Regions from separate parts of the Homo sapiens genome. Here all the other regions are linked to region 2. Evidence: fine-mapped expression QTL. A gene starts in region 2. Each other region holds a variant in brackets. All regions are shown on one strand. Distances are between the middles of the regions.

Region 1 (4,164 bases), 96 kb after region 2:
ATACGTCTGCCCATCAAGGCCAGGCGCGGCCTGCAGTGGGTGTAGCAGGAAGGGGGCGGGATTGTGCCCCAGGCTCCGCCCCGGAGCCGGCTCCCGGCTGGGAATGGTCCCGCGGCTCCGAGGGCGGGGCGGGAAGGCGGCGAGGAGCCGAGCTGGGTGCGGTGAGGCGCGCAGATCACCGCGGTTCCTGGGCAGGGCACGGAAGGCTAAGCAAGGCTGACCTGCTGCAGCTCCCGCCTCGTGCGCTCGCCCCACCCGGCCGCCGCCCGAGCGCTCGAGAAAGTCCTCTCGGGAGAAGCAGCGCCTGTTCCCGGGGCAGATCCAGGTTCAGGTGAGCGAGCCCCACCGCGGTCCCGCCCCGGGCAGGCGGCGGCGGGCGGGCGGGGGCGAGACGCGCTGCCGCCAGGCCGACTGGTGGTTCTTGGGCTCAGTGCGGCCCGCCACCCGCGCGGGCGGGGGCGAACGCCGGCGGCTCAGGGCCCGGCACCGCATCCTTCCCAGGGGGACCGGGACCCCCACGCGGGCGCTCGGGGAGGGCGCCGGCAGCAGCGAGGCCTAGGGGTGCAGGGGCGGCCTCGGGACCCGGCGCTCCCCGGCGCCCCCCGTGTCCCCCGGCGCGGTCTCAGGACTGGGCACTGGAGCCGACCTCCCCCAGCCGCTGGGGCACGCGCCCCGCCCTCGCCTCGCCCAGGCCCGACTCGGGCAAACTTTTTAACCCCTTCCGGGAGCCGCGGCCCCTGGGACGCAGCCTCACGGGTTGGGAGCCCGGGGCAGCCGCTCCCGTGGAAGTTTCTGGCGTCTGAGGCACGGAGGTAACGGGCAGCGGGCACCGTTTGGCAGCTGTCAGGGCGTCCTCCTGAGTCAGAGTCGGACCGTCCCGCTGCAGACCTTGCACCCGGCCCGGTTTCCGCCTCCGCGGCCGACTTCCTCATTCGCCCGCTGCCGTCGGACTGGTCGGGGAGGGCCCGGGGGAGGTGCGGCGGCTGCCCGGACAAGGGGGACCCGGCGGGGACCCGGGCGCGAGACAGGAAGGGCCACCCCCAGTCCCTGCTCCAGCCCTCGACCTCCGACTTCTGATCCTCGGGGGAGGGAGGCCCGGAATGCAGCAGCCGTCGGGGCCGCCCAGGCGTGCACCTGATTCCACCGCACCCAGGGGCCATCCCGTCTGGGCGGGGTGCGGGGGCAGCTAGCTCTGCCGTTACGAGCAGGCCTGGGCGATTGCATCTTTCCTGTTTGAGCCAAATCGGAGTTTTCTATTCTCCACTCCACGCACCCGCTTCCCTGTGCTGGGGTCCTCACCCCATCCTGTTCTGGGGCCACGCACAGGAGACAGGACTGCGGCACCCTCATTCTCCAGGGAAGCCCCGCTGTTTCAAACTGAGACTCAGCACCCCCAGCACTAGCTTGCCGGCTGTCCTGTGGTGGGGGGCAGGGTGAGCGCACGGCCCCACCCAGCCGGTGTGGAGAGAAGACTCCTTGGGAAGTCCCAGGTCGTAGAGGCAGGCGGCTGTCTCCACCGGGCAGTTGAGAGGCCCAGCCACTTCTCGGTTCACTGCGCCCTTTTCTGGGTTTAACAGGATTTCAAAGTGACTGATGAGTAACCGTGGAAAGGGAAGAGAGCCTTAGCTCCTTCTCCGTGCAGCGCAGCACTGTGGCCATTCTAACTACACTGTCTGGGCCAGTGTTTGGCTCACCTGATGGCTTAGGAGTCCCTTTTTGGTAAGGAGGGAGGCCTTTTGAGACAATCACTCAATTAATAATAGTCAGTTTATATACAAGGCTGCTATGTGTGGGGGAAGGGGACACAGATGTGTAATTGAGCAAATATTTAACTGCCCTCTCTGTGCCAGGGACTCTGCCAGGTGGTGGGGGGGTGGGAGGTTGAGTAAGACCTGGCCCGTGCCCATGGGCACTTAGGGGAGAACTGAGACAAATCTGTAGATGAGTCTAACGTGAGGTAGAGATGACAGGGACCCCGGAA[A/G]GGTACTGTGAGTCATGGGGATTGGGAGAAGGGAGCCAGACTGCCCTGTGAAATCCCCGGGGCCCTGCCTCTGCCCTTGGGGAGTTTACAGTCCTCAAGGGGAAAGTGGCAGAACCAGTGAAATACAAAGGCAGCCTGTGATGTGTGTCCCAAGTATGCCATAGACAAAGGACTCAGGAATTTCAAGGCTGAGAGGGGCCACTTCTCTTGGGCAAGGAGGAGGCTGCTACAAGGGAGAAGCACATTGCAGGTTTGGCAAACTGAGGCAAGCATGCGGTGTTGGAAAGTGAGGAGCCACTTAGTGGATAATTGGGGGGTAATTAAAAACATGGAGAGATTGCTCAGTGTAATTTGAGAGCCACTGCGCTCTGGATGACTGTGGGGTGACACCAAAGAACTTCAGTCTCCACACTCAGCAAACCCTGGCAGCGCAGGTGGGCAGAGCCAGGTGTCTGGAGAGCCGGCATTGGCAGGCTCTGGGGAGCTCCCCAGCCCCGGAGAGAAGGGCAGCATTCGGTGAGGCTGTTCATCTGAAAGGTTCAGGAGGGTAGAGGAGAGGGAGGGCCCTGGCTTTCTTGCTTTTATTTTTAAACTTTTTAACCTAAGGGGTTGGAGATGGGACAACTTCTCTCTCGTAGGATGAAGGACGCATGTTAATCACAGCCTGCCTTTTGCCCGCTCTTGCTCCAGAAAAAACAAAACAAGGATCTGTTAGCTCTTTAAAAGAAGAAAAACACACTAAAAAAATGCAGCATTGTTGTGTAGCCTGGTAGGGTATTGCTAGAAACCAGGCTGGCTGTTCTTCCTTTACTTCCTCTTCTAGCTAATTCTTCAATAAAGTACTTAAGACAGCCCTTACCAGCTTGACATCTTTATTTCAAAAGGAGAGGAGGGGTTGGCTGTTGTTTTCCTCTGAGCCTGGCCCTACCCTTCTCTTGGAGGGGGAGAAAGAGAAACCCAAAGCAAAGGAAAAAGAGAGAGAGAGAAAAAAAAAAACCCGTGCCTTGACAGCTTCCTCCCAAGCATCATGTTCCAAAAATATTTAGAATAACAAAATCTGTGTGTCGTCGTAATTAAACAAACGTCCTAATTTACTGAGCATAAAACAGCATCTCTGCCTGCTGGGGCAGGAAGTGCATTTCCCTTTGTGCAGCCCCAGAGAGTCACTGCCTCTCAGCCTTAACCCTTGGTGTGCTGAGACCCTGGGCTGGAGTCCTCTGCTGACAAAAGAATGGAGCCCTGGCAGTGCTGCTGCTGTGGCTTACTGAATCCCACTCTTAGAGCTGGGAAGAGTGGGGTAGTGGAAAGAACGTGAGCTTTGGAAACAGGCCGAGTTCAAATCCTGACCATGCTACTTAATAGCTTTGTGACCTTAGGCAAGTCACATAGCCTCACAGCTTGGATGTGCTTATGTATAATATGGGAATCAAGATCCTACCCTGTGGGGTTAGATGCATGAACTGAAAGAAATAAGGTATGTACATGGCCTAATATGTAGTGGCTGTATATATATATATATATATATATATATATATATATATATATTTTTTTTTTTTTTTTTTTTTTTTTTTTTTGAGACAGAGTCTTGCTCTGTCGCCCAGGCTAGAGTGCAATGGCGTGACCTCAGCTTGCTGCAACCTCTTCCTCCTGGGTTCAAGCAATTCTCCTGCCTCAGCCTCCCGAGTAGCTGGGATTACAGGTGCCCACCACCACACCCCACTAGTTTTTATATCTGTAGTTGAGATGAGGTTTCACCATGTTGGCCAGGCTGATCTCGAACTCCTGACCTCAGGTGATCTGCCCATCTCGGCCTCCCACAGTGCTGAGATTACAGGTGTGAGCCACCGTGCCCGGCTCATATATGGTTTTTGTTTGTTTGTTTGTTTTTTGAGATGAGTCTCACTCTCGCCCAGGCTAGAGTGCAGTGGCACAATCTCAGCTCACTGCAACCTCTGCCCCCAAGGTTTAAGCGATTCTTCTGCCTCAGTCTCCCGAGTAGCTGGGATTACAGGTGCCTGCCACCATACTTGGCTAATTTTTGTATTTTTAGTAGAGATGGGATTTTGCCATGTTGACCACGCTGGTCTGGAACTTCTGACCTCAAGCGATCCACCGGCCTCGACCTCCCAGAGTGCTAGGATTACAGGCGTGAGCCACCACACCCAGCACCCCCTCGCCCACTT
Region 2 (4,164 bases):
TTAGCCCAGGCTGCCAGTCCTGGCTTCCTTCCCTTTGCCTCTCAGCTGTGCCCTGAGCCTGCTTGTGACTAAGCCAGACCCAGGCCAGCTCAGCTCTAGCTGGACAGAGGAGCCACCATGTAGCTGAGAGCCCTTTTGTAGCGCGCCGAGAGCTCAGCCTTCTCTGTGTCTCTCAGGCTTTCCCTGCAGGAGTCATCAGGCAGCAATGATGTGGATTCTGTCTCTACTGCAACCCTCAGCCCAGCTATGAGAAAGGCATTCTTCCCATTGCTCAGATGAGAAGCCTGAGGCCGATCAGGGTGAAGTGACTATGGCATAAGGACAAACAGGACTGGTCCGCCTGTGAAATTCAGAATGTGAATTAGGCAGGAAAATTGGCTCTCTAGAAAATACTGTGGAAGTGCTGAATAGGATTGATAGGTGGCTGTGGAAAAGAAAGTGCTAGAGACACAGAAAACCGATACAAAAATGGGCAGGGCGGCCAGGCGCGGTGGCTCACGCCTGTTATCCCAGCACTTTGGGAAGCCGAGGCGAGCGATAACTTAAGGTCAGGAGTTCGAGACCAGCCTGGCCAACATGGTGAAATATAAAATTTCTGTACCAAAAATATAAAAAATTAGCCAGGTGTGGTGGTGCTCGCCTGTAATCCCAAGTACTTGGGGGGCTGAGGCAGGAGAATCCCTTGAACCCTGGAGGTGGAGGTTGCGGTGAGCCAAGATCATGCCACTGCACTCCAGCCTAGCTACAGAGCAAGACTCCGTCTCAAAAAAAAAAAAAAAAAGGCTGGGTGCAGTGGCTCACGCCTGTAATTCCAGCACTTTGGGAGGCCCAGGTGGGCAGATCATGAGGTCAATAGATCGAGACCATCCTAGCCAACATGGTGAAACTCCGTCTCTACTAAAAATATAAAAATTAGCTAGGCGTGGTGAGGCACGCCTGTAGTCCCAGCTACTGGGGAGGCAGAGGGAGAAGAATCCCTTGAACCCAGGAGGCAGAGGTTGCAGTGAGCCGAGATCGCGCCACTGCACTCCAGCCTGGGCAACAAGAGCGAGACTCTGTCTCAAAAAAAAAAAAAAAAAAAAAAAAAACTTTGATCAACAATTTGGAAACTGCCTGTTCTTTTAAAAACGCTCTTTCAGCTGCTGCTAATCCGAGTGTATATTCAGGACAACTTGAATCTCTGCTCCGAGTTGCAGTCTTCGAACTTGACCCAAAAAAACTCCCTGCTTAAATTAGGCTCGCCTCAGTTTTCATTTGTTTTCCTTTAGGCGGACACAGACGAGGGCCACTTAAAGGATGGCCCCTAAACTCCCGGTTGAGTTCTTTTACATATAAAGGGCATCATGCCTTTGAGGAGCTTAGCTTTACATATTAAATGGAGAAACAGAACCTGTCAACATCTGTAGGAAGTGGACAGCGCCAGTTATAAACAGGAGGCCAGGCAAGGTGGCTCACGCCTGTAATCCCAGCACTTTGGGAGGCTGAAGCGGGCGGATCACTTGAGCTCAGGAGTTCCAGACCAGCCTGGCCAACATGGCGAAACTCCGTCTCTACTAAAAATACAAAAATCAGCCCGGCGTGGTGGCGCGCGCCTGTAATCCCAGCTACCTGGGAGGCTGAGGCAGGAAAATCACTTGAACCCGGGATTTGGATGTTGCAGTGAGCGGAGATCACGCCACTGCACTGTAGCCTGGGAGACAGAGCGAGACTCTGTCATTAATAAATAAATATATGTAAATAAAATAAAGCAACAAGAGTTTGCAAAATCCAAAACCACGGGGACTTCTCAACTGCCTTTTCTCCCTTAAGTACCCTCCATTGCTACCCCTGCTCCATCACCTCCTCTTCCGGTCCCTCCTCTAGGGCCCGCCCACCCCTTCCGTTTCCGCCCCGCCCCGCCCCCGCCTTCGCCCAGACCAGGGCCCGCCCGCCTCTTCCAATCCGTTCCCCGACGGCCTGCCCATTGCTTCCGGTCCGTAGCTGAGGCCCCGCCCCTTCAACTGTGCCTCAGCCCGCCATTCCCATTGGCGGAAAATCCCAGACGCCCCTCAAATTGGAGAGGGACAGATGGGCGCTGTGGCTCACGCCCGTAATCACAACCCTCTGAGAAGCCGAGGCGGGCGGATCACGAGGTCAAAAGATCGAGACCGTCCTGGCCAACGTGGTGAAACCCCGTCTCTACTAAAAATAAAAAAATTAGCTGGGCGTGGTGGCGCGCGCCTCTAGTCGGGAGGCTGAGGCAGGAGAATCGCTTGAACCCGGAAGGCGGAGGTTGCAGTGAGCCGAGATCGCGCCACTGCACCCCAGCCTGGCAACAGAGCGAGACTCTGGCTCAAAAAAAAAAAAAAAAAAAAAAAAAATTGGAGAGGGACGCTCTTCCGCCTGCCTGTACCCGGAAGTGACGTTATGTACGTCCCCCCCCGAGGAAGTGACGACAGGCGTGCCCTTGACAGGCAGGGAGGGCTAGGCTGTGCATCCCTCCGCTCGCATTGCAGGGAGGTAGGAGCCCTGTGGGGGTGGCTCGAGGTGGTGTCGCGGCTGAGGCATGCCGCGAGCGCGTTCCTGCGCAGGCTGGCGGCCGGGCGGGCGGGGGGATCTAGCTCGCCGGAGAGCCAGGGTCCCTGGTGATGTCCGATTTTTCCCAGTTCCCTCCACACATGTCCCTTCTTTATTGGTTCCCTCCAGTACATGTCTCTTCGTTTTTGGTTCCTCTCACACTCTTAGTTCCTCCTTGAATTGTTGCGTTTCATCTTTTCAGACGACCCTGGGTTCCAGTGTTGGCTGTCATTTAATAGCGGGGTTACTTTGGGCATGTCACTTAACTTACTTGAGCCTCGTATTCCTTCCCTTACTCGCAGTGTGGGCAGTACAATAGCAACTTCCTGGAAGTTGCTGTAGGAAGACCAATAATGTGTGTAAGGTACTTGGTCCTTACATACATTATTAAATCTGTTGGTTTCTTCCTCCCATTCTTCCGTTATAATCTAAATCCCGATTTCTTTTTGGTTGTGAAGCCAGTTTTCCTGTCCTTCTGGTTTGCCTAGCTGTTCCTTCCCTTTGATTCTCATTGCTTCCTCACTTCCACGCTACAAATCTTACATATGATTTCCTTGCATTTTGCTTCCAACTCTGCCTCTTCCTGAGCCCTGAGTACTCCCCAAATCTTTTTCTAGTGTGTCGACTTCCTTTTGTGTGCCCCAGTTCTTCTGCCTCTTTCCCTCACAGATGGCTCAGCGACTTCTTCTGAGGAGGTTCCTGGCCTCTGTCATCTCCAGGAAGCCCTCTCAGGGTCAGTGGCCACCCCTCACTTCCAGAGCCCTGCAGACCCCACAATGCAGTCCTGGTGGCCTGACTGTAACACCCAACCCAGCCCGGACAATATACACCACGAGGATCTCCTTGACAACCTTTAATATCCAGGATGGACCTGACTTTCAAGACCGAGTGGTCAACAGTGAGACACCAGTGGTTGTGGATTTCCACGCACAGTGAGTATTGGGGGTCCACAGAAGACTAGGGTCCTACTTGTTCAAGTATTTATTGAATGCCTGCTGTGTCCCACGGCCATGTTCTATGCTGCTCATATGTAGACTCAATATACAGACTGGTCAGGCCCAGTCCCTGCCCTCAAGGGGAATGCAGTCTGGTGGAAGACAGACAAGTGAACAGTCTGCAAAGCTGACTGTTAGTGCTGGGAAACACATGTTCTGTTTCTCAATCCCCAGAAAGCTCAGCGTCATCTTTAGCATGGACCAGAGTTGGAAAAATATGACTGTCACCTTGCTTTTGGTGTATACCAGTTCCTGGCCCTGCAGATAAGCTGATGTTAACATCCTGCCATGAAAACCGCAAGAAGGGCTGGCAAAAAGTTATCAGTGTCGGCCGGGTGCGGTGGCTCATGCCTGTAATCCCAGCACTTTGGGAGGCCAAGGCGGGCAGATCACCTGAGGTCAGGAGTTCAAGACCAGCCTGGCCAACATGGTGATACCCTGTCTCTATTAAAAATACAAAATTAGCTAGGCGTGGTGGTGTGTGCCTGTAATCCCAGCTACTCGGGAGGCTGAGGCAGGAGAATCACTTGAACCTAAGAGGTAGTGTTTGTAGTGAGCTGAAGATCGCGCCATTACACTCCAGCCTGGGCAAAAAGAGTGAAATTCCATCTCA
Region 3 (4,164 bases), 28 kb before region 2:
CAGATCACGAGGTCAGGAGATCAAGACCATCCTGGCTAACACGATGAAACCCTGTCTCAACTAAAAATACAAAAAATTAGCCGGGCGTAGTGGCGGGCGCCTGTAGCCCCAGCTACTCAGGGGGCTGAGGCAGGAGAATGGTGTGAACCCGGGAGGCGGAGCTTGCAGTGAGCCAAGATGGCGCCACTGCACTCCAGCCTGGGCAACAGAGCCAGACTCCGTCTCAAAAAAAAAAAAAAGAAAAAATAGCAGTGGACCAGGTATCACCATTTAATTGACATTTGATCCCAAGTGTTGCTGTCTCTGTGCTGCCCTGCTCTGACCACTGATATCCCTTCCCCTGTTAGTTATGTGTCTCGGTACCACGTGAAAGACTCCTCACGCCACGTCATCCTAGGCACCCAGCAGTTCAAGCCTAATGAGTTTGCCAGCCAGATCAACCTGAGCGTGGAGAATGCCTGGGGCATTTTACGCTGCGTCATTGACATCTGCATGAAGCTGGAGGAGGGCAAATACCTCATCCTCAAGGACCCCAACAAGCAGGTCATCCGTGTCTACAGCCTCCCTGATGGCACCTTCAGCTCTGATGAAGATGAGGAGGAAGAGGAGGAGGAAGAAGAGGAAGAAGAAGGTGTGTAGCAGCCCACTTTCTGAGGTCTAGAGTGATCTGTGGGCTAGCACGGGAGCAAGCTCTGTAGCCATTGTGATCTTTAACCTTGATAAAACTTCGAGAATTCCCTGAGACTTAAGTATGAAGAAGCATTCACTTTGGCTCCAAGAGCTTCTTCTAGAGCCTTTAGATCACATCAAGTGGTTGGGGAGGATAGCGGTGTTTTAGAGAAGCGGCTGGACTGTGGCAGAGGTAGAGGAAGATGAGGGAAGTCCCAGATTGAAGCCGGTGGTCTAGAGGGAAAAGCTCCGCTCCGGGTTAAATAGCCTGAAAGTTGTCTCTCCTGCTCCACCAGCTGGTGACTGAAGGAAATACCTGCCCAGCCCTGTGAGCATCTGAAAGGCTTAACTTCGGAATGGAAGTGTTGAAAACTCACGCACAGTCCAGCAGAGGTTCAGAAAGGAAAGTGAACATCATATCACACAACCTGGCTCATTTCTCTTACATTTTTTGTGTCTTTCAGAGGAAGAAACTTAAACCAGTGATGTGGAGCTGGAGTTTGTCCTTCCACCGAGACTACGAGGGCCTTTGATGCTTAGTGGAATGTGTGTCTAACTTGCTCTCTGACATTTAGCAGATGAAATAAAATATATATCTGTTTAGTCTTTCCCTCATCGTCTGCCTGCATTAACGATTTACAGTCGTTTCTTCAAAGATTCCTGACAGAGTGGGGATGAGATTCAGCAATTTCTATGTGGAATTCAGAATCTGGGTGTCCTCATTTGTTATAAGAAGTCCATTTCCACAAGCATGAGTGCCTGCTGGCTGTGTGAAGGGCCACCTGTTGCTTTTGGAGAGTTCACTGTGAGGAGCTGGAGTGCAGAGCACTAGTACAGCGTGAAGCAGGGTGTGGGTGAGGTGGGGCTGCTGCGCCTGAGGGAGGCTGCCACAGAGAGCTTGATGGATGTCCCACTGGGTGATTGTGTAATGGTTTATGAATTGTTTTTAAGCTTGGCTTGGGCTGGTGACACTCAGGCCTGTCCCTACAAAGCATTGTGTCATAAGAGCTCTGCATGTTGAGGATATGTAAACTTTTTTTTTTTTTTTTTTTTTTTTTGAGACGGAATCTCACTTTGTTGCCCAGGCTGGAGTGCAGTAGCATGATCTCGGCTCACTGCAACCTCCACCTCCCAGGTTCAAGCGATCCTCCTGCCTCAGCCCCCCAGTAGCTGGGATTACAGGCATGCACCACCATGCCTGGCTAATTTTTGTATTTTTAGTAGAGACGGGGTTTCGCCATATGGGTCAGGATGGTCTCGAACTCCTGACCTCAGGTGATCTACCCGCCTTGGCCTCCCAAAGTGCTGAGATTACAGGCGTGAGCCACCGCACCCAGCCGAGGCTATGTAAACTATGTAAGTGGACACTGTTCTGTTCTGGACACTTGATGGAGTAATTACCCTGCCAGGTATTAATGCTGAGCTTTCTGTAGTATCTAAGCCTCATACAGAACTGTGATGCTGGCAGGAGTAGTACCATTGTAGAGGTGAGGAAACAGGCATGGTGGCTCAAACCTCTAATCCCAACACTTTGAGAGGCTGAGGCAGAAGGATCACTTTAGCCTAGAAGTTTGAGACCAGCCTGGGCAACACAGGGAGACCAGGGCCTGTCTCTGCAAAAAAATAAATTATTAGCCAGTCATGATGCTTCCACCTGTGGTCCCAGCTACTCAGGAGGCTGAGGTGGGAGGATTGCTTGAGCCCAGGAGTTCAAGGCTGCAGTGAGCTATGATCA[C/T]ACCACTGCACTCCAGCCTAAGTGACAGAAGGAGACCCTTTATCAAAAAAAAAAAGGCCAGGTGCAGTGGCTCATGCCTGTAATCCCAGCACTTTGGGAGGCCGAGGTGGGTGGATCACTTGAGGTCAGGAGTTCAAAACCAGCCTGAGCAACATAGCAAAACCCCGTCTCTACTAAAAATACAAAACAGCCAGGCATGGTGGCACACGCCTGTAATTCCAGCTACTTGGGAGGCTGAGGCTGGAGATTCACTCGAACCCAGGAGGCGGAGGTTGCAGTGAACTGAGATCACACCACTGCACTCCAATTTGGATTACAGAGACTCTCAAAAAAAGCTCAGCATTTCTAAAGTTACAGGTTTTTTTTTTAAAGTAGCTTGAAAAAACACAAAATTAATTTTAATGAATCGAACCTCAGCAAGCAAAAGGTTTCTTGAACTGTGTTAGAAGCAGTGGAGAGAAAAAGTGTACTTGGGGAGTTTTCAATGTGAATACAGAGTGTTAAAAAACAGATTAAAGTGGTGTGACTAGTGCCGGGGGTTTCCAGGTTGGACCAGTATTCACCAAATTGCCTCTTGCAAACCATGGCCCTGTCCAACAGGATTAACAGAAGCAAGTGGAAGTGACTCAAGCTCATTCCCTGAAAATACTTTGCATCAGTTTCCACTGCCTTTTTTTTTTTTTTTTTTTTTTTTGAGACGGAGTCTTGCTCTGTTGCCCAGGCTGGAGTGCAGTGGCGCAATCTCAGGCACTGTAAGCTCCGCCTCCTGGGTTCACGCCATTCTCCTGCCTCAGCCTCCCGAGTAGCTGTCCACTGCTTTTATCTGTCCTGCATGGGGCTACCAAGTTGACTGCTGCAGTAATCCTACATTCAGAAACTCCCAGTAGCATCCTGTTGCTTACAATCTAGGTTCAGCCTACTCGTAGGGCCCTACCATACTTGACGAATTCTGTTTAATTTCCCACTACTGTATTCACCACATAAGACCAGCAATTATTTTAGGAACTTGTTTGCCAGCACCCATTCTCATAATCTTCACAACCACTAAGAAACAGACATCCCCAAATTGCATGACTATCAAAACATCTCATATGCCCCATAAATATATACACATATGCCCCCAAAAATTTTTTTGAAAAATTGGCCAGGGGCCATGGCACACACTTGTAATCCCTAGCACTTTGGGAGGCTGAAGCAGGATCGCTTGAGCCTGGAAGGTCAGGGCTGCAGTGAGCCATGATTGTGTCACTGCACTCCAGCCTGGGTGACAGTGAGACTCTGTCTCAAAAAGAAGAAATAAGACATCCCTACTTTATTTTTGGCAAAGTATTCTGCCTGACCTCTCTGGTTGCAATGCTTATTCAACAAATGCTTAAACTTCCGTATGTCAGATACTGGACAATTTCTGCTCTGAGGGAGCTTTTCTCTGATGTTGACACAGACTGAAGAAAGTAAATGACATTCGGCCAGGCGCGGTGGCTCACGCCTGTAATCCCAGCACTTTGGGAGGCCGAGGCGGGCGGATCACGAGGTCAGGAGATCGAGACCATCCTGGCTAACACAGTGAAACCCTGTCTCTACTAAAAATACAAAAAATTAGCCGGGTGTGGTGGCGGGCACCTGTAGTCCCAGCTACTAGGGAGGCTGGGGCAGAAAAATGGCGTGAACCTGGGAGGTGGAGCTTGCAGTGAGCCGAGATCACGCCACTGCACTCCAGCCTGGGCGACAGAGTGAGACTCCATCTCAAAAAAAAAAAAAAA

The links.
Region 1: its variant is fine-mapped to the expression of TXN2 in whole blood (TOPMed, PIP 0.91).
Region 3: its variant is fine-mapped to the expression of TXN2 in whole blood (INTERVAL, PIP 0.99).

The regions. Positions count from the first base shown.
Region 1 is chr22:36,383,974-36,388,137 of GRCh38, reverse strand. MYH9 (myosin heavy chain 9) reads left to right here and starts at 171. Exons shown (of 41, transcript NM_002473.6): 1 at 171-331. RefSeq lists enhancers at 1-154, 1,778-1,827, 1,585-2,298, 2,338-2,527, 2,299-3,012 and silencers at 1-527, 558-637, 918-1,147. The variant A/G (reference allele first, on the strand shown) is at 1,982.
Region 2 is chr22:36,479,899-36,484,062 of GRCh38, reverse strand. It overlaps TXN2 (thioredoxin 2), which reads left to right and starts at 2,423. Exons shown (of 4, transcript NM_012473.4): 1 at 2,423-2,499; 2 at 3,226-3,488. The coding sequence starts at 3,226. RefSeq lists an enhancer at 1,047-1,993.
Region 3 is chr22:36,507,970-36,512,133 of GRCh38, reverse strand. EIF3D (eukaryotic translation initiation factor 3 subunit D) reads left to right here. Exons shown (of 15, transcript NM_003753.4): 14 at 348-631; 15 at 1,134-1,279. The coding sequence ends at 1,147. Among named protein-coding and RNA genes, the nearest start is that of FOXRED2, 3.0 kb to the right of the region's middle. RefSeq lists an enhancer at 711-790. The variant C/T (reference allele first, on the strand shown) is at 2,405.